Linked DNA regions of Homo sapiens. The protein of the gene in region 1 interacts with the protein of each later gene in a pairwise test. Each region holds a gene or a part of one and is shown on either strand. Other genes may lie near its edges.

Region 1 (4,257 bases):
CTGGGCTGGAGACAGGGGAAATGGAAATCCCAAAGGGGAATTCCTGTCCCCCAATGCTAGCTATGCCCTCTACCCCCACTGTCCTGCACCAGGGCCAGAACCTCAGCCCACGGACTTCTACCATCCTCCTTTCTCCAGCCCCAGGGTACCAGAGGGCCTGTGGGAAATCCACCCACACTCCTCCAGGCCATCCCCAGGATTCCGGGGACTCACCAGCCTTGATCAGAGGATCCCCGTTCCTGTATCCTCCAGGCACCGCCTCCTAGCCTGGAGACCAAGCAGAACCCTCTGCCTCCCTCCCCTTACTTCCTCACCCCCTCCAGCTCTTCCTCTCCTTTCCTCTCACTGAGGTCTCATCACCCTTCCCCTTTCCTGCCCACCCCCAACTCCCGCTCGGGGACACAAAGATCCCATTGATTTCTGTCCCAACAGCACCTGCTAAGACTGAGCTCTGCCCAGCTCCCAATACGGAGTGGTGAGGATTGAGGACAGCAGAGCCCTATGGATCCCAAAGGCCACACTCACCCTCCATATCCCACCTCCTCCTCGGGGACTCTACCAACCCTTGCTTTGGGGAGCAGTGCTTTTCCCTAGGAAAGGGGGTGTACAGCCGGACAACAGGCCAATGCCCCCGACTCTTCTCCCTGCACAATGCTCCTGCTCCTGTCCCTCTATTTCTACCTAACTCCCCTGCCCAATGGCGGGAGGCCCCAGACACTGCAGGCATGGTGGGGGCCAGGAACCTCGTTGGCTGGAGCATGTTTCCTGGTGATCCTGAGGCAGCGGGTGAGTGAGAACCTGGCGGGGGTCCCTATCACTGGGGCTGGCTGCTGGAGGCTGGGCTGGAGTGGGCACCATGTTGACGCCAAACATTTGCATATGCACTGGGCAGTGGCAACGAGGATGAAACATACACGCATGCACACACAATGCTGGGAGCAAACTGTGGACTAGGGACAAGCATCTCGAGCGCCATGAATACTAGATACCCTGTGACTATGGGTGAATGGAGCCCTGACAGACAGGCAGTGTACAAGACACGCCCACCCCCTCACATACCTGACTGTGGGAGGCGTGCATGGCAGAGCAGCCCAAGCTCACACCCCTCTCCCGGAGAGGGTGCTTGTGTTTGTGCTCACACGTAGGTGACAGATGGCGCCAGCAGTCTCCAAATGGGGAGCAGCGGTTGGGATAGATGGGGGTGGGGGTGTCATGAGAAGGGATGGCATCCACAGTGGGACCCTGTCCTTGGCAGCTAAGCGAGAGCTGGGAGCTAGACATGGAGATGAGTAGCTCTCTGGGTGTGGGTGTGCAGGTGTGCATGTGAGTGTAGTGACAGGGACAGTGAGTGAGAGAGGGAGTGTGCAGGAAACTGTGTCCCCCAGCAGTGCGTGTGCGTGTGTGCGTGTGCATGTGTGCATGCACCCGTGCTGGGGCAGCAGTGAGGGTGAGTTATGCACATAAGAGTGAACCAGTGATTCCCAGTGTAAGAGCCAGAGCTGGGCATGGGAGCCGCTAGAACAGGAGACAGAGGGGGACTGGACCCCAGGAGGGCTGGAGGGCAGAATGAAAGAGGGATGTGTGAGGGAGTCTGTGAGGCAGGCATGTGAGAGACACACAGAGATCCAGAAGAGACACTGGCACCCAGTGTCCTGAAGACCGGGTCTCTCCAGCCTGCCCACCAGGCCAGCTCCCCAGGAGGCCACCCGGGGTCCTTCCCTAGATGGAGCCCCCCAAACCTCCCCTCCCTATCTCCTTCGTTTGGTGGGAAGAATCCAGTAGCCTCAGAAGAAAAAGGGAGCAAGAGAAAAGTGAGAGTCAGTTGGTCTGGCCTTGGGATGGTGCGTGCGTTCCCTGCAAGCCAGCCAGCTCCAGGACACCTGGGCCCATGCCTAGGAACCCCCACCCCAACTCCCAGACCTGGGCACTGCAGCAGCAGCAAAACCAAGAAGAGGAGCAGCAGGCGCCCCAGGGTAAGCCCCTATGAGCGGCCACTGCTCCATGGCTGGGAAGCCAGAGGGAGACGCCAGGCTTGGGGAAACACGAGGCCAGCCTCTGGTGGTGGAATGAAGGGAAGCCCTGTTGAGGATGCCCCTGTACACCACTGCCACCACTCCTCCCCACTCCCCAGCCTCCGGCCATCCAAGGCCAGGCAGCCCAGCTGGCAGAACTCACCACAGAGAAGTTGCTGGCGGAGCAGTGATGCCCACTGAAGTTGCAGCTCTTAAGCATGTCGGCGAGCTGGTGGCCAGTGCGGTTGAGGATGTCTACCATGTCAGGCTCTGGGTAGCGCAGGCCAGCCGCACGGTGCCCATCCCGGTCTTTGGGGGGCAGCCCTGTCAGATTGGCCAGGTGGAAGATGTCGGCATCGCTGAGTGCCGAATGCCGGAAGCGGTTGATATTGCAGAGGGTGACAGCCGGGAAGCCCGCCACTGGGGCTGGGGCAGCGGGGTCCATTGCCACCAGGTGAGGCCGGGTCAGGTAGCCCCGGGCCAGGCCAGCCGCCTGGTACAGGAAGGCAGCCAGCGAGGTGAGTAGGGCCAGTGCCCACAGGGTTCTGCGCAGTCCGTGGGGGCCTGGGCCACAGGCCCGGCCCAGTCCATGCAGGGTGCTGGTGCTGGCAAAGGTGGCCAGGTCTCGGGGGGCTGCTCCAGGGGCAACAGCCCCGAGGAGGCTCTGCTCATCCCCTGCCTCCTTCTCCTTGGGTTTCGCATCCTCCTCAGCAAATTTGATTTTGCACACAATCTCGATCGGCATCTGTCCCCGGCTGCTGGGACTGGCCAGAGCCTCCCTGCCCTGTCCCTCCCTAGCCAGCAGCCCTGGTGCCCTCCCGAGTGGCAGTGGTGGCAGCGGCTGCTCTTCTAAACTCAGGGCAAGCGGGAAGAGGACAGGGACAGGGTGGGGGCCCGAGGTGGGGGAGTCACTCCCACTCCCAGCAGCTCCGCAGCCCTGGTGCTGCCTCTGCCGCTGCTGCCTCTGCTGCCGCTTGTCTCTCTCCTCGATCGTCTCCTTGTGGCTTCCCTTATCAGCACCAGCACAGCTGTCAGCCCCTGCGTGTGTCCCTGCGAGCGAGCGAGTGAGCGAGGGAGCGAGCGCTGCTCCGCCACGCCGCGCAGCCCCAGCCGCTCCGCTCAGCATGTGCTCCGGAGCCCTCCCCACGCTTAATAATTCAGGACATGTCAACAGCGTTTCACCGGCAGCACGGGCGTCAGGAGCCAGGCCAGGGGAGGGGGCAGTCCCCAGCCCAGGACAGAGATCCCAAGACTGGGGCTATCCCCCAAACTCCTGCTGCACCCTAGCCGCTCACTGGGTCCCCAGATCTCCCCACTTCCTGGCCACCCAGGGAAGGGTGCCGTGCCCAGGGTCCTCAGCTCATTCTTTGCCACTTTCCTGGCCCACACCCCATGAAGGGTCAGCCAACTCTATCCCCCCACCTCCTGGCCTCTGAGACTCCTGACTCCAGCACCCAGCCACCACCTGATCCCACTACCCGACTCACAGCAGCTTCCAGAAACTCCTTGAGAGAGCCACTTGTTTGAATGACGGAGGGAGGGGGGCAGAGGAGGGCAGGCTAGACAGACCAGGGGACAACTGTGACTTCAAGATTCTCAGCTTCCCTGGAGCTTTGCTCCAGACTTCAACACCCACCATGCCCCTGCCCCCTCTGGGAGGCTGGCTGCCCTCACCCTCATTTTGCCCCCAACCCCAATCTCAGTCATTCATATGTCTGGGACAGACAGCACCCTGGCCAGCTTGCATATCTGTGGCCACTTTGCTTCCCCAAATGTTCCCCAAATCCCTTGCCACAACCAGGCTTCGGGGGAGGGCTGTTGGGTAAGCAAGCCAGGGAGCAAAGGGGAGGTGTGCTTCCGGGGTGCTCTATATGTAGGGGGACAGGGCATGCAATGGAGGGAGAGGAAGAGCCCCAGTGGGGGCGTGGAAGGGAGCAGGAAGATGTGCTGGGCGTCAATGGGAGCGAATGCTCTCCTAAAGAAAGGGGTTTGAGGGGTGCCTGGCAGAGTGGGGCAGGAGAGCCCTAAGGGGTCTGCTGTGTTCTCGTGGAGGGGAACAGGCATGTGGGCCATCATCATAGGTGGGGGTGGGAGCCTCAGTTGACTGGCCAGGAGGGGATGCATCCATGCCCCCAGGGTGGGGGTGGCAAGAATCAGTGCTTGTGCTCTGGGGCCCCATCCGACAGCATGTGCCCTCACGGGGGAGGAAGCCCTTGTCCCCGGGAGGAAAGGGGGGCTGATTAAT
Region 2 (3,500 bases), on another chromosome or scaffold:
CATGCTTATTGCTGCTGGGTTTGTTATGTAGTTATTGTGAATTCACATTTAGGAATATAGGGTTTTTAATTCTTTGATTTTAGATACTTGTATCTTTTTTCTTTTATATTTAAAACCTTGGTTCCTGATGATATCCCTTCTTAGAAACCCTGTCTACCTTTGGCCTTCAGCCCACCATGCTGTGGTTTTCCTAACTTGCTGCCTGCACTTTTCAGATTCCTTTCATGGATCTTAAATATCATCTGTAAATAAGATCTATGTGTCAATAATTACCAAACTTTTATCTTTAGTCTTGACATCTACCCTGAACACCTAGCTTTGACTAACTCCTAGCTTTGGCATCTCCACTTGGAAATCCAAAAAGTGTTTCAAACTGAACATGTCTATGAAAGACTTATTTTTTTCTCTCTATCCATGCTATCCATCAGGTTTTCCATTTCCATAAGGGTGACTCTTGTACTCTGGTTCCTATATATTATACCGACAGAGCAGCCCAGAGTGCTTCTTAACCAGTGTAAGGCCTGTTATGTCCCACCCTCACTCTTTGTCCTTCAGTGGCTTCCCAGCACACTTAGAATAAAATCTGAAGTCTTAGGCCGGGCTTGGTGGCTCATGCCTGCAATCCCAGCACTTTGGGAGGATGAGGGGGCAGATCACTTGAGGTCAGGAGTTGATGAGACCAGCCTGGCCAACATGGTGAAACCCTGTCTCTACCAAAAAATACAAAAATTAACTGGGTGTGGTGTTGTGCACCTGTAGTCCCAGCTACTCGGGAGGCTGAGATAGGAGAATCACTTGAACCCGGGAGGCAGAGGTTACAGCGAGCCAAGATCATACCACTGCACTCCAGCCTGGGTGACAGAACGAGACTCTCAAAAAAAAATTAAAAAAAAAAAATATGTGAAGTCTTGAATAAAACCCAAGATCTTTACCATGGCCCCTGAACAGGGCAGAGTATCCATTCTTCAGACACTCTTCATAGAATACCATGGTGAGCTGGCATATTTATTATACAATACAGAAACAATTTTACTGGCAGAAAACACATTAAACCGTCTAAACTCTGAATACAGTTGTCCTCATAAAAAATGTTCAACATACTATTTTGAGGTTTTCCATTAATAGTTCTTATAATCTTTGTCCCATTATGTGTTAATCCAACAAAGGATATCCAATAACAAACACCAAAGTTTAAGAAAAATGTGCTAGGCGCGGTGGCTCACACCTGTAATCCCAGCACTTTGGGAGGCCGAGGTGGGCAGATCACCTGAGGTCAGGAGTTCGAGACCAGCCCAGCCAACATGGTGAAACCCTGCCTCTCCTAAAAATACAAACATTAACTGGGTGTGGTGGTGGGTGCCTGTAATCCCAGCTACTCAGGAGGCTGAGGCAGGAGAATCGCTTGAACCTCCTGGGAGGCAGAGGTTGCAGTGAGCTAATATTGCACCACTGCACTCCAGCCTGGGTGACAGAGTGAGACTCCATCTCAAATTAAAAAAAAAAAAAAATTAATGATAGAGAAACTTAAATCAGTTAGATTGTTTTAGGTATAGCCCATCCTTGGTTTTTGTGTGTAGCATCTAGCTTGGGGAAACCCTGGATTTCTGGAATCATATTTAGACACAGTCACACTAGACTAATGTAATTCTTTTGGGATGCAAACCACACGTTTGACACCTTAAATAGCTTTTAGGTATTTGGCTTCCCAGCCCCTATTTTTAGTTACAAGGGGTGTACATGTGTGGGTCAGGGTGGGGGTAGCTCTTTCCGCAGATGATTAGTTTTAGCCATGTTACTAGTTATTGCACACATTATCTGTGTCCTCACAGCAGCCCTGTGAGTAAGTGTATTAGGGTTCTCTAGAGGGACAGAACTAATAAGGTAGATGTATATATGAAGGGTAATGTATTAAGGAGTATCGACTCGTATGATCACAAGGTGAAGTCCCACAATAGGCTCTCTGCAGGCTGAGGAACCAGGAAGCCAGTCCAAGTCCCAAAACCTCAAAAGTAGGGAAGCTGACAGTGCAGCCTTCAGTCTGTGGCAAAAGGCCTGAGAGCCCCTGGCAAACCACTGGTGTAAGTTCAAGAGTCCAAAAGATGAAGAACTTGGAGTCTGATGTTTGAGGGCAGGAAGCATCCAGCATGGGAGAAAGATGAAGGCTCAGCAAGTCTAGTACTTCCACACTCTTATTTCTGCCTGCTTTATTCTAGCTGAGCTGGCAGCTGATTAGATGGTGACCACCCAGTTTGAGGGTGGGTCTACCTCTCCCAGTTCACTGGCTTAAATGTTAATCTCCTTTGGCAACACCCTCGCAGACACACCCAGAAACAATAATTTGTAGCCTTCAATCCAATCAAGTTGATAATATTAACCATCACAGGAAGGTACTAGTATCATATGTTTAACAGTAGAAACCAAGACAAATGCAGCTAGGAAGTGGGAGAACTGGGATCAGATGCAGGCAGTCTGATTCTAAATCAGTTGCTGTTACCCACTCTGACAACAGTAAGTGAGTAGCCTGCTCAGTCAAGTACTATATTAGTAGGGCCCTTTACAGACATATTTATTTCTCACAGTCACTCAATGAGACGGCTCTTCCAGTCTTACAATGGAGAAAGTGAGGCTCAGAGACTTTAAGTAACTTACCTTAGACGACTTTACTAGTAAGTATAAGAATCATTATTTGGACTAAAGTCTTTCTGAATCCTCAGCTTGTATTTTTTTCCAGTGTTCTGTGCTGCCTTTTTATCTACTAGTGTTTTACATCAATTTTGAATCTCTTTACTAACTGGTTAGGTTGATTTTTGCCTTTTTTTTTTAGGTTATTCTATATTTGTCGTTAAGGGTGATCTGCCAGATTGCGAAGCTGACCAACTCCTGCAGATGATTAGGGTCCAACAGATGCATCGACCAAAACTTATTGGAGAAGAATTAGCACAACTAAAAGAGCAAAGGTAAAAATGAGGCCTGCAGTATGGAATATATGGTAGTATTTCATTATGAGAATTAAATTTTCATGCTTAGATTGAATATGTGGTCCTTGTGTTGTTGGCGACTCTATTTTGGACCTTATATTTTAGTGAAGTTTATTAGTTTAAACTTGAATCAACTCTTTGAAATACTTAAATATATTAACTTAGTTAGCTGGTATGGTATATTCCTAGCACTTCGGGAGGCTGAGGCAGGCTGATTGCTTCAACCCAGGAGTTCGAGACCAGCCTGGGCAACATGGCAAAACCTCATCTCTACAAATAGTACAAAAATTAGCCAGATGTGGTGGTGTATGCCTATAGTCCCAGCTACTTGGGAGGCAGAGGAAGAAGGATCACCTGAAACTGGGGAGGTAGAGACTACAGTGAGCCATAATCACACTACCGCACTCCAGCCTGGTCGAGAGAGTCAGACCCTGTCTCAAAAAAAAAAAAAAAAAGAAACGGAAAAAAAAAACTTAGTTGGATTCAAATTGCAACACAATCATTATATTACTAGAGCTTATT
Region 3 (3,500 bases), on another chromosome or scaffold:
AGGAAAGAGCATCAGCTGGCAGCTGCAAGCCACCTGGGGTCCAGTTGGCCCTGAAACTTCCAGGTCACATCACCTGGGAAAGCCAGAACGTCACAGGCCTGGACCCCAGTTTCCGACATGTCGAATGAAGATGGTCACAGCCCTGATCTCACAGGGTGGTCATAAGGGTGAGCCTGGCACACGGCAAATACTCAACAAATGCTGGCCGTTATTGTCATTTGTGTTATTAAGGACAACCTCTGCTGCTGCAGGCTTTGGGAAACCTCACGTAAACATGATTCCTGGGCCAGATTTTGATGCTGGACTTTCCAAGTGCCGGCAAAGTCCCAAGGGAACATTTGAGTTTGACACGACTGTTTCCAGGACTACCTCTTGCCTGAATGGCTAAAATTCCACTCTGGAAACCATCCCATCCAATTCCACCTCTCCACAAGTCATTCCAGAGTCAAGGATGTCTTTCTAGCAAAGTCTCACCTCTGCAGATCAACTGCTCCCACGGGGGCTGAGGGCCTGGCTCTGTGCTAACCGTGTGTGTTATATGTGTGGCATGTGCATGAGACACTGGGGACAGATGGAAGCCAGAGTGAAGATCTCTGGTGGGTGCCAATTTGGGCATCAAGGGGGCCACAGCTGTGCCCTCCCTGGGGCCCCTTCCTGCTCACATTCTGCAGTGAGGGTTCAGTAGAAGGATCTGACTAGAGGGGCCCAGGGGTGTCAACTCGAAGGGAAATAGACGATCTCACCATGCAAAGATCAGAAACAACCCAAAAGTTCAACAGTCCTCACATCAGCTATCTGGGTTAGGACTGAAGTTCCCGTTCTGACTAAGAGGGGACCATGTCTCAGGGAGCAGAGTAACAGCTAGATGGGACCTAAGATCGCATCTGGGCGATGGAGCGCTGGGCCCTTCCTTCAGCCCTAGGCTAGCTTCCCACTCTGGCAACATGGGCACTGCCATGTCCAAGGAGGACCGTCCAACTGCCACACAGTGACTTCCCAGGGGATGCCCACCAGCACTGCTGGTTCTCGGAGGAAGTGCCATGTTCCAGGAGGCCTTTTCCTACAGCGGCCATGGATTAAAGAGAACGCCAGTGACTTGGAACCAAGGATGCTGGGCACATCCCATGCTCAGAGGCACCTGGAAGAGGGGACTGCCCTAGGCTCAGGGTTACCTTGGGGATCGACTTCCTTGGCCAGCTTGAGGGCGTCGGAGTTGGCCAGGTCCATGTTGGCGGGCGTGACAGCCAGAATGAGGCTGCTCTCCCGGCTGATGAACTGCAGGATCATGTCCTTGATCTGGTACTCGATGTCTGGAGGCTGGTCGCCCACAGGCACCTTGGTGATACCCGGGAGGTCGATGAGGGTCAAGTTCAACACTGGGAGGGAAACCAGAAGGAAAGGCATTCAGAGCCAGGAGAGGGGAGGCACAAACAGGCCCGCAGCCACCCAGCTGACTACCAAAGTTCCTGCGCGGGGCTCAGACTTGAGGATGTCGCCTGACACTCTGCCTGAACCACACCTTTGATCCAGTAACTCCCCTTCTAGGATCCCATCCTACAGATACCTTCTACCTACTCCATTTCAATGGCACAGTTCTAAATCAGGACAGTTCAGACTGGAATAGACCTAAATGACTGAATAAATTTCAGCCCATCCATTCAGCCAATACCAAAGAACCATTACAGACAAACAGATGAGGCTGGGTGCGGTGGCTCACATCTGCAATCCCAGCACTTTGGGAGGCCGAGGTGGGTGGATCACTTGAGGCCAGGAGTTCTAGACCAGCCTAGCCAACATGGCAAAACCCCATCTGTACTAAGTATACAAAAATTAGCTGGGCGTGGTAGCACACACTTGTACTCCCAGCTACTCTGGAGGCTGAGGCATGAGAAACACTTGAACCCAGAAGGTGGAGGTTGCAGTGAGCTGAGATCATACCACTGCACTCCAGCCTGGGCGACAGAGCAAGACTGTCTCAAAAAAACAAAAACAAAAGACAAATGGATGAGGCCAGGCGCGGTGACTCATGCCTGTCATCCCAGCACTTTGGGAGGCCATGATGGGTAGATCACTTGAGCTCAGGAGTTCGAAACCAGCCTGGGCAAGATGGCGAAACCCTACCTCTACCAAAAATATAAAAAATTAGCCTGGCATGATGGTGTGCATCTGTTGTCCTAACTACTCAGGAGACTAAGGCGGGAGGATCGCCTGAGCCCAGGAGAAGAAGTGAGCCAAGATCTCACCACTGTACTCCAGCTTGGCCAACAGTGTTAAACCCTGTCTCAAAAAAAAAAAAAAATAAATATATAATAAAGAAACATTCTGAGAGGCATACAAAAAAAAAAAAAAAGCATAGGCCAACGCAGTGGCTCACACCTGTAATGCCAGCACTTTGGGAGGCCAAGGCAGGCGATCACCTGAGGTCGGGAGTTCGAGACCAGCCTGACCAACACGGACAAACCCCGTCTCTACTAAAAATACAAAATTAGCCGGGTGAGGTGGCGCATGCCTGTAATCCCAGCTACTCAGGGGGCTGAGGCAGGAGAATCACTTGAACCCGGGAGGTGGAGGTTGCGGTAAGCCAAGATTGCACCATTGCACTCCAGCCTGGGCAATAAGAGTGAAACTCCATCTCAAAAAAAGCATAAGTGATTTTTATGTTATGCTAACAATTTAAGGAAAAGGAGTGATAAACACATACACAACATATACATAGATACAATCACAATTGCTTACATGTTTTTTGCTTACACATTTTTTTTAAGATAGAGGGTCTTGCTATGTTACCCAGGTGAAGTGCAGTAGCTATTCACAGATGTGATCATAGCTCACTGCAACCTCGACTTCCTGGGCCCAAGTGACCCTCCTGACTCAGCCTTTCAGGCAGCTTGAATGACAGGTGTGTGAAACCACACCCAGCTCATGTTTGCATTGTCATCTGAAGAACCTAAAATATGTGTGCAAAACTGGTTGACAAGGTAGGTTTTTGCGATATACCTTTCTGTAATTTTTGAATTCTGAGCCACATGCAGGTGTCATTTATTGAAAAACAAATTTAAAACTTATCGCAAGGAACCCATCATGGTAGCAATCTGTGCCTCTGGGCCAGAGGATGTCTATGGCCCCGGGCTGCTGTTTGAATGCAGAGTTTTAAAATCAGGATATTTGGCTGGGCAAGGTGGCTAAAACCTGTAATCCCAGCACTTTGGGAGGGGGATGCAGGCGATCACCTGAGGTTAGGAGTTCGAGACCAGCCTGGCCAACATGGTGAAACCCCATCTCTACTAAAAATACAAAAAAGTAGCTGAATGGGCTGGGCGTGGTGGCTCACGCCTGTAATCCTAGCACTTTGGGAGTCTGAGGTGGGTGGATTGCCTGAGCTCAGGAGTTCGAGACCAGCCTGTGCAACATGGTGAAACCCCGTCTCTACTAAAAATAAAAAAAATAAAAAATAAAAAAAAAATTAGCCAGGCAGGGTGGTACACACCTGTAATCCCAGC
Region 4 (3,500 bases), on another chromosome or scaffold:
CCCGCCTCAGCCTCCGGAAGTGCTGGAATTACAGGCATGAGCCACTGCACCTGGCTTTCATAATCAATTTTTTTTTTTTTTTTTGAGACGGAGTCTCGCTGTCGCCCAGGCTGGAGTGCAGTGGCGCGATCTCGGCTCACTGCAGACTCCACCCCCTGGGGTTCACGCCATTCTCCTGCCTCAGCCTCCCGAGTAGCTGGGACTACAGGCGCCCGCCACCTCGCCCAGCTAATTTTTTGTATTTTTAGTAGAGATGGGGTTTCACTGTGTTAGCCAGGATAGTCTCGATCTCCTGACCTCGTGATCCACCCGCCTTGGCCTCCCAAAGTGCTGGGATTATAGGCATGAGCCACCGCGCCCGGCCCATAATCAATATTGACAAGGTTAGGATCCTGAGGTCACCTGGCTTCTTACTGATAAGAGCACAGAAAGCCCAAGGTAAGCAAATATATTTCCTGGTAAATAAACTGGACTAAAGTCCAGGTTGGTTAAAAGCCACAAATCTTTAAAATGTTAATGCAATTTAATTAAAATTTTATTCAATTAATTTGAATTCAATGAATTGAATACAATTTTTGTTTCTAACCCACACTTCTGCAGCAGGTGCAGCAATGTGAATGCTTACCTTCCGGAATCCCTGGGTTTTATTCTGACCAGATCCGTGGATGAGCAAAGGATGGAAGAAAACAGTGTCGCCCTTCTCCATCACCAGGTGCACCCGGGCCTTGTTTTCCTCGTAGTCCTGGATCCCGTGGAACATTTTGTTAACTCCCCCCTAGAACAAGAGGCAAGTGAAGTCTACATTTGAGGGAGTACCATAATTAAAAACATTGTCAATGGTTCATCAGGGAAAGCAAACATCAGGGAAAGAAAGCATTTCTCTCTCCCAAGAGAAATAAATGTCTAAATTAAATGCTTACATTTTTTTCAGTATACAAAAGCCTCTCAGATATCTGGTTTTTAAGAGTCACATTTTGGCCGGGCATGGTGGTTCATGCCTGTAATCCCATCTCTTTGGGAGGCCAAGTTGGGAGAATTGCTTATGCTCAGGAGTTTGAGATCAGCCTGGGCAACATGGCAAAACCCCATCTCTACAAAAACTGCAAAAATTAGCTGGGCGTGGTGGTGCCAGCCTGTGGTCCCAGCTACTCAGGAGGCTGAGGTGGGAGGATCGATTGAGCCGGGAGGGGGAGGTTCCAGTGAGCCATGATCACACCACTGCCCTCCAGCCTGGACAACAGAGCAAGACTCTGTCTCGAAAAATAATGGTAATAAAAAAAAAGAAGTCACATGTTGATATTAAAATCACTGATTTTTTGGAGGAAATGAACAGTGTGGAATTTCCACCTGCCCTTCATGACTGCATTATACATGAAGATCTAGCTTAGCTTTGCCTTTTGTGGTTAATGCAGGCAACCACCTATCTCTTGGGCATTTCCAGCCTGAAACTGTGAGTGTTCCCAGTGTGTTCTCCTCCTCGCCCAGAACTTTAAATAAATCCTTCATCTCTTACTCAGGAGTGTCTCTGAGAAGCTATTTCCCCAAAATAGGGGGGAGAAAATGCTCAATTTTTCTGAGCTCAAAGGCACTTATGTTACATCCAGAATAATGAAAGAATAGTAAATTAAAACACTGTGTTTGTTTGTAACTATTTCCCAAATTAGTTGCTACTTTAGGTAATGCGGTTATGTCTTTATTAAAGAAATTGACATGAGAAGCACCTTAGGAGTCAGGGTAAGGGAAGCAGCCCATTCCTCTTCCTAAGAGCATCCCCAGTTCCTTCTGGGAATGACGACATCCCTCTTAGACAGTGCTGAGACTCTGACCCAGAGCCCTTCTCTCCTGGCCAGGGTGAATGTGTGACCCACACTAAGCTAATCATACCTCCCACTCTGCATCTGAGCAGGGTATCTGAGACTCCACACGCTCTGGAAGCCCTGCAAACTTTTCCCTTTGCCTTCTGTCAGCCAAAGCCCACTGCAGTTGCATGCACCAAACTTTAAACCTTGGCTTCACTGATGAGTTTCACATTAAATGGTTTTATATCAGGATCCAGACACTCACATATTTTCATTTGACACTAATTATTGGTGCAAGAAATCTGAGACGTTCTATTATTATTATTATTGTTATTACTGAGATGGAGTCTTGCTCTGTCGCCCAGGCTGGAGTGCAGTGGTGCGATCTCAGCTCACTGCAACCTCCATCTCCCAGGTTCAGGCAATTCTCCTACCTCAGCCTCCCGAATAGCTGGGAGTACAGGCACACACCACCATGCCTGGCTAATTTTTGTATTTTTAGTAGAAATAGGGCTTCACTATCTTGGCCATGCTGGTCTCAAACTCCTGACCTCAAGTGATCCACCCGCCACGGCCTCCCAAAGTGTTAAGATTATAGGCGTGAGCCACTGTGTCCAGACGAGTTAGGAGTTCCTAAAACCATGTTCCTCATTTCCTATCGAACTACAACTCATTCTCCCTGCTTTAACAATGGGGGCTCTTTCCATTCGCAGCATCATGGGATTCCAGGATCTTTTCTTTTCTTTTTTTTTTTTTTTTGAGATGGAGTCTTGCTTTGTTGCCCAGGCTGGAATGCAGTGGCGCGATCTCAGCTCACTGCAAACTCCACCTCCTGGGTTCAAGCTATTCTCCTGCCTCAGCCTCCTGAGTAGCTGGGACTACAGGCGCACGCCACCACACCAGGCTGATTTTGTATTTTTAGTAGAGACAGGGTTGCTCCATGTTGGTCAGGCTGGTCTCGAACTCCTGACCTCAAGTGATCCGCCCACCTCAGCCTCCCTAAGTGCTAGGATTACAGGCATGAGCCACTGCGCCCAGCCCAGGATCTTTTCTTTTTCTTTTGATACGGGAACTTGCTCTGTCACCCAGGCTGGAGTGCAGTGGCACCAACATAGCCCACTGCAGCCTCGAATTCCTGGGCTCAAGTAATCCTCCTGCCTCAGCCTCTGGAATAGCTGGGACTACATGCATGCGCCACCATGCCCAGCTAATTATTATTATTATTATTTTTAGAAATGAGACCTCACCGTGTTGCCCAGGCTGGTCCTGAACTCCTGGGCTCAAGCGATCCTCCCACTTTGGCTCCCACAGGGTCTTTTCACCTTAGACCTAACGCGTTAATAGTCATCTCTCTGGTTTCTTTGCTTCTAGATGCCTATACCTCTAACGCGTCCTGCACCAGAACGTGACATTACTGTCCTTGAAGAGCCGATTTGATCCCATCACTCATGAGCTCAAATGCATTTAACATTTCCAAGCATCAGCAGCTGAATGGATGAACAAACCATGGTTCACGGTGCAGCCATGCAATGGAATACTACTCAGCAAGGGAAGGGAAAGAACTACTGTTGGCCAGGCGCGGTGAGCCCAGCACTTTGGGAGGCCGAGGCAGGCAGATCACGAAGTCAGGAGATCGAGACCATCCTGGCCAACATAGTGAAAACTCGTCTCTACTAAAAATATAAAAATTAGCTGAGCATG
Region 5 (3,500 bases), on another chromosome or scaffold:
CACCACTGAAGCAAATTCCAAAACCACTATCAAGAGGCAAAGGCTACCAGAAAAGCTCTATTTCCTTAAAAAGTATTTGGTTGTAACAGAAGTTAAGATTTGGCTTTAAGACATAAAAAGCCCAAAAGAGTACCTCTGTGGACTATTTTTTCAGGCTAAGGCTACCGGGAGATTTAAGTTCATTCTCCATTAAGGAAATTAAAGAATAGTGCTTGGTATCATTGAGACAGAAGCAATTTGGGTGAGTACTGCTCTGTGGAACAGGGAAAGTATGGGAACAAGCTGCCCTTTTCCCAACAGTTTAGCAGATTCAGGACTCCTACCAGTCTCTGCTGCTCCAAAAGAAGATCTGCTTCTTCCTTCTCCTTTTTGTATAAGATCTCCATTTCCTGTAGCCTAGAAGTAAAAAAAAAAAAAAAAATTCAAGAATGCTATTAGTATTACATGTTTAAAAGAAGAAACAGTCATATGGGCTGCGTAACTGTGCATTACCTTTTCTCCATCTCTTGTTTCATATCAATTCCTTGTTTTTCCAGAAGCTCCCTCTGGGCAAATGTCCAGTCCACAGGCTCAGAGGGGGTCTCAGCAGAAGGAGTCTTCTCTCGCTCAGCTCGTGCTTGTTCCGGGTGGTTAAAGCGGAAAACATGGTTTTTACCCATGATGATACGGTTTCCTAGCACAAAACAGAAAAATAGGGTTAAGAAATAATTTTTTTAATATATAGTATCTATTTAACAACCTCACCCCTCCCTAATGTGAAAAGACAGCTTTCAGAGCTGTTGTTTTTACAAGAACAAAAATCCTAATGCTGACTATTACTTCAGCCTTTAAACAGCCAAAAATTAGAGTTGTCACAGAAGCCATGTGCACATTGCTGAAGATGGCAAACCTCTCCCAGTCTCACCTGAGCGCAGCTGAACAGGCTGGGACACCCTCTTGCCATTTACGTAGGTTTCTGAGCGCTCACAGGGCTCTAAGGTCACGATAACTAAGAGGAACAAACACAAACTAATGTTATCATTACAAACTATTGGAATCAAATAATGGAAAGCAGTTGCTTATCAGGATTTGCAGTAAGTAGAATAAATCCCTGCAATCAATCAAGTGGCTGAAGTTGTCTATACAGTAGTTCATTTTGGGGTACCAGAACTAGCCCCAATAGAAGAGGCTATCTGTGGCCATGGCTAACACAAGAACATTTAACTCTATTTGATAAACCTAAGAAGATGATAGGAAATATTAGTTTCAGGGATCTCTGACGGTTCAGTCAATAAAACTCAGAACCATCAGAAATTGTAAGGATGAGATATAGGTAATAACCAGAAACTAAAGACTGAGAAGCTAATATTTTGATAAGGGAATGAGTGACTTATATAACAGAAAAAAACCATTAAATTGTTGTTTTGTTAATAACCCAGGCAAAAATCAAGACTGACTTTTTCTTCCCTTTTAGATAAAAATAAATTCTGCTGGGTTGACTTAATGTCCTTCAAATCTCCTATTACCCAGGATATCTGCTATTTTCTTACTTTTCTATTAAATAATTAACATTCCAGACCAAGCCTAATTGCCTATGTCCTTCTCAGTTCTTGGCAGTAAAAAAGGGCTTCTTTTGTCCAAGCTATTTTCATGTAAAGCAGCCTTGTCCATCTCTGCATTCATAAGCAGCCCAGGTCTCTCCATTTTTCAGAATTAGATTGTATAAGAAAGTACTACTGATAGACAGAGAATACAAAGTCTTAAGGATTTCTCATAATATAAAATGAAAATGTTGTTGCTGAAGCTCCAGCCAGGAATGCTCACCTTCCCCGCTGTTGCTTCTCTCACTCCGGAAGATACAATGCTCTTCTTTAATGTGAGCCCCGCTCAGCACTATGTCCTGGCGCCGCTCAGCATCTGCTTGGCCAACCCTGAACACAAGAGAAAGTGTTTCCCAGGGAAATTCAGACACAGAAAGCACTACAAACAATGAACCTCTTTATTCCAAAGAATATCCTTTGGTACGTACAAAAAAGGTATTGCCTTGTTGCATCAGAAGCTTTCAACTATGAATTCTATCCTCACATATGATCAACCTCTCTACATCAGAATAAGAAACAAGGAGCACTGATATACCAATGTAACTCATACAGTATTATAAAGACATGAGTCAAATAAAATCCCTAAGGAATGTATATTTGTTAAAGGAAAAAAAAATTATTTAGGGTCTTCAGAGAAAAACTACATAGTAACTGGCTCCAGTGGCAAAAACACATTATTTGGAAAGAGAGCATAGTTTGTAACTATTTCAGACAAAAAATACAGCAAATCATTACGTTAATTTTTTCAACCCCTTCCCTTTAGTTATTCAATTATCTAAGAGGGGGAAAACACACGAAGTGACCAAAACAGGAAATAAATATACCTTGTAATTCCATCTTTGATGTAATAAAGTAGGCACTCAGACATTAGTGGGTCTTCATTGAGGTTAACAAGATGTGGGGTCTGAAAAAGATTACAGATGATCAATTTGGAGCAGGGCACCATGAGAGAGCTGTGGTAACAACAGGGGCCTACAAGAGGCCAGGCTTCTCCAACTCTCCACAGAGCCTAGAGAGGGATTTCTTTTTATCCCTAGTTGCGGTTCCATAATAAAGAGAAAACACTCTCTTCAGGCCTCACCAAACGGAACCAAGTGCATTCTATTTTATTTTAATTAATTAATTAATTTGAGACAGAGTCTCGCTCTGTCTAGAGTACAGCGGCATGATTTTGACTCACTGCAACCTCTGCCTTCCAGGTTCAAGTGATTCTCCTGCCTCAGCCTCTCAAGTAGCTGGGATTACAGGTGTTCGCCACCACGCCTGGCTAATTTTTCTATTTTTAGTGGAGGCAGGGTTTCACCATGTTGGCCAGGCTGGTCTCGAACTACTGACCTCAACTGACCCACCCTCCTTGGCCTCCCAAAGTGTTGGGACTATAGGAGTGAGCCACTGTGCCTGGCATTCCATTTTAAAACATGAGTTCTGGGATAAAAAAACAAGACCTAATTTTTGATAAGGTCAAAGCACAAGGAAAAAATGACAGGCCAATTCTCTGAACGGAATAATTATAATTTTTGTAAATGCCTGGGTAAAAATCTCAAGAAATATTTACTTTTATTAAAATGTCCCCATACCCCCCCACCACTTCCCACTATAATTTTTATCAGTTCTTCTGATCCCAGTTATTAATTTGTCTTTACCTTAAAAGATTTTAATTTATTAGTCTTTACCTTAAAGAAAAAAGTAAAATTACTGATATTCGATAAGATAAACATCTTCTAACAATCCTCTTCATCTAACTCTAATATTTCTAAAATCTTTTTAAAAAACCAACCTTCTTTAGTGAAAATAACCCACTGGAATCCAAAAATAAGTCACATGGTCTTGAGGCCAAAATCTACTCAAGAGAGTGCCAGCAAATGTGGAAGAATGAAAGAAGAGTCAGATGAGGGGGTAGGAAAAGGAACTATAAAAGAT
Region 6 (3,500 bases), on another chromosome or scaffold:
GAAAAATAGGAACAGGAACAAAAAGAAGACCAATGACTCAGAGGGACAGAAACACAAACGCAAAAAATTCAGACAAAAGCAGTAATGTTTAAAAGGTTTTTATTAAATTATACAAAAACAGGCAGTTAGAAATTGTGTTTTCTTCCTGCCCCATTGACATTTCTAAGGCCCTAATGCATTTGTTCTGAGGTTTGACAGTTGAAGCCCTTCACCAGTGCTAGGGAAATAAAGCCTCCTCAACCTTAAGGATTTCAGTGATAAGAGTCTGAAAGTCTAGCACTTCAGGTAGACTTTGGATGAACTAAGAGGTTCCACAGTCACCCTGTCATATAACTGTCTGACAGAAATAGGGGATGAGGTCTATAAAATGGAAAGGGTGGTATTTCGTTTTTATTGGTAATGAATGATTTGGAATAGAAGCATACAGAACTGCAAATTTCAAGGACGTTAGTGTACATGGCCTGGCCTTTGAAATACAAGGAGAAAGTTGGGTGCAGAAGAAATAGGAGAAAACTACAATAATTTCTGCCTCATTGAGTCTGTGAAGTAGACCCACTTATGGCACATACGTTCCTGTCTTAGAGGCCTGGAACTAGCAGATCTCGTGGAAAGAGTTCTTTCCCATGGAAATGACAACACAGGCAGGTCATTTGAGTGGAGGCTTAAAATTCCTCAGGATACTGGATCAGGGTAAAAGCTGCTCCTTAGATTCCAGATGAGAATGTGTATGGTGTGTTCAGCATAGGGAACACAGCTTTTCTGGGGAAATGACAGTGCTTCCATTGTGAGCCTTGAAGCTCACTGAACCCAAGACGGATGGCAGGTGGAAGCTCTGCTAAGGAGAGGCCCTTCTTACGCCTCTTTCTGGGGAACCTGAGCATGTTAGTGCCTTTTAGGTAATGTTACTTGTGCAGCCTAACTGAAGGATGAAGTCCTCCAGCTTACCACCCTAGCCCACCCTGGCTTGCCCCGAACTAAAGATTTATGTCACTCATTCAATCTTCTGGGTCTACAAAACCAGGAGAATGGAAGAGAAATACTAAAATGCAGTTGTCTAGCAGCCGTACTCCAATTATTAGTCATTAGACCTGCATGTGAGATTTAGTTACCTCTTCAGTTGTTAATTAACATCACTACTTCGGGGAGTGCAGAGTCAGGGCTTGATTTTCTGCAGGATAAGGGGAACAGATCTGTGCTGGGGGAAGAGCTGAGTTGCAGACAACTCACAAAGGCCACTGTGACTAGTATTCCTTTCTGGCAAACATTTACTTTCTCCAAAGCCATGGGTTTGACTGCCATTGTTTCCTAATGTAGGCAGTCTGAAACCGAGGAGGAAGGGGTCCAGTTGACTGGCAAGTGGGGATAATACATTAGAAAACCAAAGCTCCAAAGTGAGTTAGAAATGCATTAGAGTAGGGAAAAGAAGACATTAAGTAAGGAAGGCCAGAGGCCCAAGAAGCCCAAGTTAAGGTAGAAGATGAATTGTGAACTAAAAGTTTGAGGGGCAGAGAAGCAGATTCATTTGGCCAGAAATAAGTATTGGTATAGAGTGATGATGAGAAAGCAGTGGCTTTCTTAGAATTTGAGTTGGCAGTTCCCAAGGCTGGCTAGTAAGCCACACACGGAGACTAACAGGGCCACACCATCTTCCATTGCCCAGCCAGGAGCCTGGCTGGCAGACCTTAGGTGTCTGATGACATTGGAGTAATAGTGTGACTTCTAACAAATACCTAGGTGGTGTTTAGGGGAGGTTATGGCTTGTTCACTCAGGAAACTAGCTTTTTATTACAAAGGGCTTATGATGATTTTATTGGCTGCCAGAGGAACACAGTAAATAACTCCCAAGTGTCTTGTTGGAAATTAATCATGTGGAAATTATCACTTCTTTGGTGCAATAATGCCTTCCAGTTGGGCCTGAAAAACAAAAACAAGCTCCATTAATACTTGAAACTTGCAGCCTGATACAAATAGCTGAGAGGTGATCAAATCTCTGGGAAGAAGAATCCACATGCTGTCACTCCAAGGGTTCTTTTTCCCCTTGATCCCCAAATCCATATTTTCTAGATTAGCTAGTTTCTAGCTTGGCATACAGTCTTTAGTATATGAGGAGAAGCCAGAGCTGTCCTGGTTTCAACACAATAATGGCTCCGGGTATGATATAAAGCATTGAAAAGGATATTGAATGCATTGTTGTAAGGGCTTTTCATGGCTCAGGTTTCAGGCCAGAATATGTCTGCTAAGTTAAACATTTGGCTCTCTGGCCGGGCGCAGTGGCTCATTCCTGTAATCCCAGCACTTTGGGAGGCTGAGGCGGGCGGATCGTGAGGTCAGGAGATCCAGACCATCCTGGATAACACGGTGAAACCCCGTCTCTACTAAAAATACAAAAATTAGTTGGGCGTGGTGGCAGGCGTCTGTAGTCCCAGCTACTCCAGAGGCTGAGGCAGGAGAATAGCATGAACCTGGGAGGCGGGGCTTGCAGTGAGCCAAGATCGTGCCACTGCACTCCAGCCTGGGTGACAGAGGGAGACTCCGTCTCAAAAAAAAAAAAATATTGGCTCTCTGGTTTAGGATCCTGGGAGTTCTGCTGGGACCAGAGGTTTGGGAAACAGTGAATTTTCAGCCACTGAGACAACTTGGCACACAATTAGAGAAATGCTGCCAGTGAATACAGAGCTGTCCCTCTTTGTTGGGGGGTGGGGGTGGGGAATGGAGTTTTGCTCTTGTCACCCAGGCTGGAGTGTGATGGTGTGATATCGGTTCACTGCAACCTCTACCTCCCGGGTTCAAGTGATTCTCCTGCCTCAGCCTCCTGAGTAGCTTGGATTACAGATGCACATCACCACGCCCAGCTACTTTTTGTATTTTTAGTAGAAATGGGTTTCACCACGTTGGCCAGGCTGGTCTCAAACTCCTGACCTCATGTGATCCACCTGCCTCGGCCTCCCAAAGTGCTGGGATTACAGGTGTGAGCTACCACACCCAGCCGAGAGCTGTCCCTCTTTATGTAAAGCTTAAGACACTTGGGAGTTATTTACTATGTTCCTCTGGTAGCCAATAAAATAATACTGGACAGATCTTTAGGTAGGTCTATCCTGGGGACAGCAAAGCTGCTTTATTTGCAATGCAGTTTTGAGCCAATAAAAATAGCTCACTTCCTGTATTACAAGCCTGTAATTCCAGCACTTTGGGAGGCCAAGGTGGGCAGATCATGTGAGGTCAGGAGTTCATGACCAGCCTGGCCAACATGGTGAAACCCCATCTCTATTCAAAATACAGAAATTTGCCGGGCGTGCTGGCACATGCCTGTAATCCCAGCTACTCAGGAGGCTGAGGCAAGAGAATCACTTCAACCCGGGAGGTAGAGGTTGCAATGAGTTGAGATGGTGCCATTGCACTCCAGCCTGGGCAACAAGAGCAAAACTCCGTCTCAAAAGAAAAAAAATTTAAAAATGCCAACTTCTAAAGAATCTTTCACCCTGGAGATTACAAGATTGCTT
Region 7 (3,500 bases), on another chromosome or scaffold:
AGAGCTCTACATGTAAGAACATTTCCATATTTCTCAAGGGTACATCTGATATGATTTTACGATTCTCTATAGCACTGTAGTTCAGAATTTTGCAAGGTAGTACGATTAAACAAAAAATCTCCAATCTCCAGTTTAGAGGCTGTTTAAACACATATACAACTGTATTTTAAAGCTGTCGCATATGTGTTTAAACAGCCTCTAAGCTGGAGATTTTTGTTTATTTTCGCAGCCTCCAAAGAACAGCATTTTGAAAAGAAAAGACAATACAAAAACATAAAGTCTGTATTGTAGGGGCAACTAAATTAGTTGTACTGAGGATAATACAAACTCCTCCAAGAAAGACATTTATAAAATTATATTAAGTTAGATCTTAGGGTAGAAAAGCATGACTTTTGTGCTCTGAATTTAAATCAGAAAGAAGTTGCAGTTACTAAGTTTCATTTATGGACTTTTGTGCCTTGCTGTCTTAAGCAACGTAAATATGAAAACCCGGAGTCCTTTAAAGTCAGTGAGACCTTTATCTTGTATCCGCCATTTTGAAGCAATCTCTCATGGTGTCAAAGTTTCAAAGTAGAGATCCTTGCATATAAGTGCCACATTTTAGGAAAATAAAGGCCAGACTTGCAAACTGCCAGTCTATATTAACATCTACTTTGAATCTCTTTGCTGGGGTGGAGGCGGGGAGCTCAGCTGAAGAAAGTAAATAACTTTTCTTTTTCTTCCTTTCTTTTCCCCCTTGAGCTCTTTTTCTTATAGGATTGTAGGAAACTTGAAAGGTAGGGAGAAATTCTACTAGTTTCACAACTTTGGGTGTTTGTGTATCTACTTTCTTCAAAACTAAAATGTGCAAAAGGCAGTTAGAGTTAACAGGAAACTCTGCTGCAGCTGCCGAGGACCCAAATGTCTGAAAATTTGCCTCCCGCAGGATCTGCAGCCTCCACACATCAAAATCAACATGGAAGCAGCTTGCACTACAAATGTGGGGTCCCGTCATTATCTGATTGGTGGGATTCTAACTTTACTTCACAATTTCTGGCAAGCCCTGTGCCAATCTTGAAGACTTTTTTGGAATATGCTTAAATATTTGATGGGTGTCTATTAAAAGTTAAATACTTGTTTGTTTAGCTTTCGTTCCTTAGACACATATAATCAAGATTCTCCAAAACCCTAATAAATCTGTTACTTACCTCGAAATCTAATTACCCAGACTACTAATTAGGTGAAAATGATTACCGGAAATGACTTCAAATGTGGAATAATAGTGGTTGAGCGGTTTTTCCAAGTTTGTGGTTTAGTGAGTTGGTATTTTAGATGTTAAACGCACTGACATTTTAGGTTCGCAGCAGTTGAAAGTGGTAAAAAGCTAAGATAATTAAAATCTCTGCCATGGAAAGGCAACAGTCTGGGGAGAGGTAGATTTCTTGAATTGTTTCTTTGTTTCTCACCAATGGGCTTTGTTATCAGCATTATTTATTTAGCCAAAGAGTTCTTTGTCTCTGCAAATGGCCCCAATCAAGTTTTGTTTGAGACAATTAGCTAGTGCCAGCCAATGAGTCCTATGCAAATGTAGGGATAGGAATGCAATGTGTGCATTTGAAGGCACGGGTTTTTGTTCTTGGGGAAGGCAGATTGTAATTGCTTTCTTCGGGTACTTTTTTTTTTTTTTTAAGTTTAGGGTGGGGGTGGGGAAGACAGGTTTATCTGGTCTCCTTCCATCCCCTCTAGTTCCAGAGCAGCTGGGGGTGGGGGTGGGGATGGGGGTGGGGGGAGTGTCTGCAAGTCCTTTAAAAGCCTCTGCCTCGCCTAGTCCGTGCTCTTTTTAAGTTAGTGCTGGAACGTGGAAGAGCTGCTGCCTCCGAAGCAGTAAACCAGCCCCTCTGTTTGTTTGTTTGCTTTGCCCTTAGTTCCACTGCTCCAAACCCACCCACCAAGGACTCTGAACCTGTCCACCCCGGGCGCATCAAGATCTTCCAGCTGGGTACCCCCGATTTGGGCCGACTTTGCACCTCCAAACAACCTTAGCATGATGTCTTATCTTAAGCAACCGCCTTACGCAGTCAATGGGCTGAGTCTGACCACTTCGGGTATGGACTTGCTGCACCCCTCCGTGGGCTACCCGGGTAAGTGAGCCCTGCTGCACTCCCGCACCCCTCTTCCCCATGCCCACCCTCCGGGGATGCAACACCCTGTTCCCATGGAACACGGGGGTTGGCAGTCACACTGTCCCCACCCAGCTTCAGGCTTGGTCTCCTCTAGGTTTGCCTTCTGAGGAAGCAGTCCCAGGGCATTTACTGACCAAGCAGAGAACAGGGGTTGGGAAAAGTGAGTAGGTGGGTCTGCAACCGTTACAATCACATCACTTTATTCTTAATTCGAGTAAATAAGGATTGGCATCAGAGTGGGATGAGGAAGGTTACTGTCCTTGTCATTTGGGCAAAAGACCCCTACCCATATCTCAATGACCAATTCCTCAGAAGTGTCCTCTTGGAGAAGCTGAGTTTTCCCTCCGTAAGTCCTTAGCACTCTCGGGCTTCGCAGTTGTTCCCTCCATGCCCAGGCCTTCCCCTATGACCTCCAGAGCCTGCTTTAATCCCAAGAGGCGTGACTTCCTCCAAATGCGGGTGCTTTCCTTTCCAATCAGATATGTTTAAAAATCCTCCCAGGAGTATGAACTATGTCCCCATTTTAAAGATGGAGGAACAAAGGCCCATGGTGTGCTAAAAACCATGGGAACAGGATCCAGATTTCCCCCATCAATTCGAGCTGCCAGTCTGTCCTCGGAGATCCTTTGACTTCTTGGAATAGCCTTTTTGTGTTGTGGTTTGGGGGTTGATCTTGGAGAACTTTTTTGTGTGTCTTTTAAAAAATGTTTCATTTGTTAACTTTCCAAGTGATGCTCTGATTGGAGCAATCTCAACACCAAGAAGAGTAGGGAAAGAAGCAGCGTGTGTCCTGGGTCCCCGGGGAGCAAGGCTGGGGAGACGGTGGGGAGAGCATTGGTAGGCTCCCGGCTGAAGGGCTGTGAGGAACGGGGGACTGCTGCGGGGTGGAGGGCAGGGGCGTCGGAGAACCCGCGGAAACGCCTATGACTGAGAAACTGCTCCCCCACCCTAAAGGGCCCTGGGCTTCTTGTCCCGCAGCCACCCCCCGGAAACAGCGCCGGGAGAGGACGACGTTCACTCGGGCGCAGCTAGATGTGCTGGAAGCACTGTTTGCCAAGACCCGGTACCCAGACATCTTCATGCGAGAGGAGGTGGCACTGAAAATCAACTTGCCCGAGTCGAGGGTGCAGGTAGGGCAGATGCAGGCAGAACCATCCTTCCTGATCATGCCACCCTTCCCGAGTATGGGACTGTGGAGAGCCCCAGGTCTTTCAGAGGACTGAAGGAAGGCTTGAAATTCTCCTTCACTCACTAAGGGGCCAGGAAACTATTCTCCTTCTGCCCTTTTTTGCCTGCCCGTCACCACTTAATCCCGTAAGCAAGGGTCTTCAAGGCCCG

Evidence for each region.
Region 2: the proteins of ASIC4 (region 1) and ATXN3 interact in binary tests that used the Homo sapiens proteins (3 or more experiments, as listed by UniProt).
Region 3: the proteins of ASIC4 (region 1) and DNM2 interact in binary tests that used the Homo sapiens proteins (3 or more experiments, as listed by UniProt).
Region 4: the proteins of ASIC4 (region 1) and PHYH interact in binary tests that used the Homo sapiens proteins (3 or more experiments, as listed by UniProt).
Region 5: the proteins of ASIC4 (region 1) and KIF1B interact in binary tests that used the Homo sapiens proteins (3 or more experiments, as listed by UniProt).
Region 6: the proteins of ASIC4 (region 1) and DNALI1 interact in binary tests that used the Homo sapiens proteins (3 or more experiments, as listed by UniProt).
Region 7: the proteins of ASIC4 (region 1) and OTX2 interact in binary tests that used the Homo sapiens proteins (3 or more experiments, as listed by UniProt).

Annotation. Positions count from the first base shown.
Region 1 is NC_000002.12:219,513,225-219,517,481, reverse strand, and holds the start of ASIC4 (acid-sensing ion channel 4), read right to left. Parts: upstream 2,758-4,257; coding exon 2,176-2,757; intron 787-2,175; exon of another isoform or gene 396-786; intron 278-395; exon of another isoform or gene 214-277; intron 1-213. UniProt on the Homo sapiens protein: Does not exhibit measurable stand-alone pH-gated sodium channel activity but may form pH-gated heterotrimeric sodium channels. Its activity could also depend on alternative gating mechanisms.
Region 2 is NC_000014.9:92,082,583-92,086,082, reverse strand, and holds part of ATXN3 (ataxin-3 reference isoform), read left to right. Parts: intron 1-2,579; exon of another isoform or gene 2,580-2,670; intron 2,671-2,824; coding exon 2,825-2,957; intron 2,958-3,500. UniProt on the Homo sapiens protein: Deubiquitinating enzyme involved in protein homeostasis maintenance, transcription, cytoskeleton regulation, myogenesis and degradation of misfolded chaperone substrates.
Region 3 is NC_000019.10:10,773,579-10,777,078, reverse strand, and holds part of DNM2 (dynamin-2), read right to left. Parts: intron 1,377-3,500; coding exon 1,173-1,376; intron 1-1,172. UniProt on the Homo sapiens protein: Catalyzes the hydrolysis of GTP and utilizes this energy to mediate vesicle scission at plasma membrane during endocytosis and filament remodeling at many actin structures during organization of the actin cytoskeleton.
Region 4 is NC_000010.11:13,283,065-13,286,564, forward strand, and holds part of PHYH (phytanoyl-CoA dioxygenase, peroxisomal isoform a precursor), read right to left. Parts: intron 776-3,500; coding exon 626-775; intron 1-625. UniProt on the Homo sapiens protein: Catalyzes the 2-hydroxylation of not only racemic phytanoyl-CoA and the isomers of 3-methylhexadecanoyl-CoA, but also a variety of other mono-branched 3-methylacyl-CoA esters (with a chain length of at least seven carbon atoms) and straight-chain acyl-CoA esters (with a chain length longer than four carbon atoms).
Region 5 is NC_000001.11:10,294,070-10,297,569, reverse strand, and holds part of KIF1B (kinesin-like protein KIF1B), read right to left. Parts: intron 2,485-3,500; coding exon 2,405-2,484; intron 1,911-2,404; coding exon 1,804-1,910; intron 989-1,803; coding exon 905-988; intron 674-904; coding exon 493-673; intron 397-492; coding exon 324-396; intron 1-323. UniProt on the Homo sapiens protein: Has a plus-end-directed microtubule motor activity and functions as a motor for transport of vesicles and organelles along microtubules.
Region 6 is NC_000001.11:37,563,440-37,566,939, reverse strand, and holds the end of DNALI1 (axonemal dynein light intermediate polypeptide 1), read right to left. Parts: intron 1,915-3,500; coding exon 1,879-1,914; 3' UTR 86-1,878; downstream 1-85. Other genes in the region: GNL2 (nucleolar GTP-binding protein 2), read left to right, coding at 1-85. UniProt on the Homo sapiens protein: Involved in sperm flagellum assembly.
Region 7 is NC_000014.9:56,803,980-56,807,479, reverse strand, and holds part of OTX2 (homeobox protein OTX2), read left to right. Parts: intron 1-1,812; exon of another isoform or gene 1,813-1,904; 5' UTR 1,905-2,023; coding exon 2,024-2,120; intron 2,121-3,116; coding exon 3,117-3,292; intron 3,293-3,500. UniProt on the Homo sapiens protein: Transcription factor probably involved in the development of the brain and the sense organs. Can bind to the bicoid/BCD target sequence (BTS): 5'-TCTAATCCC-3'.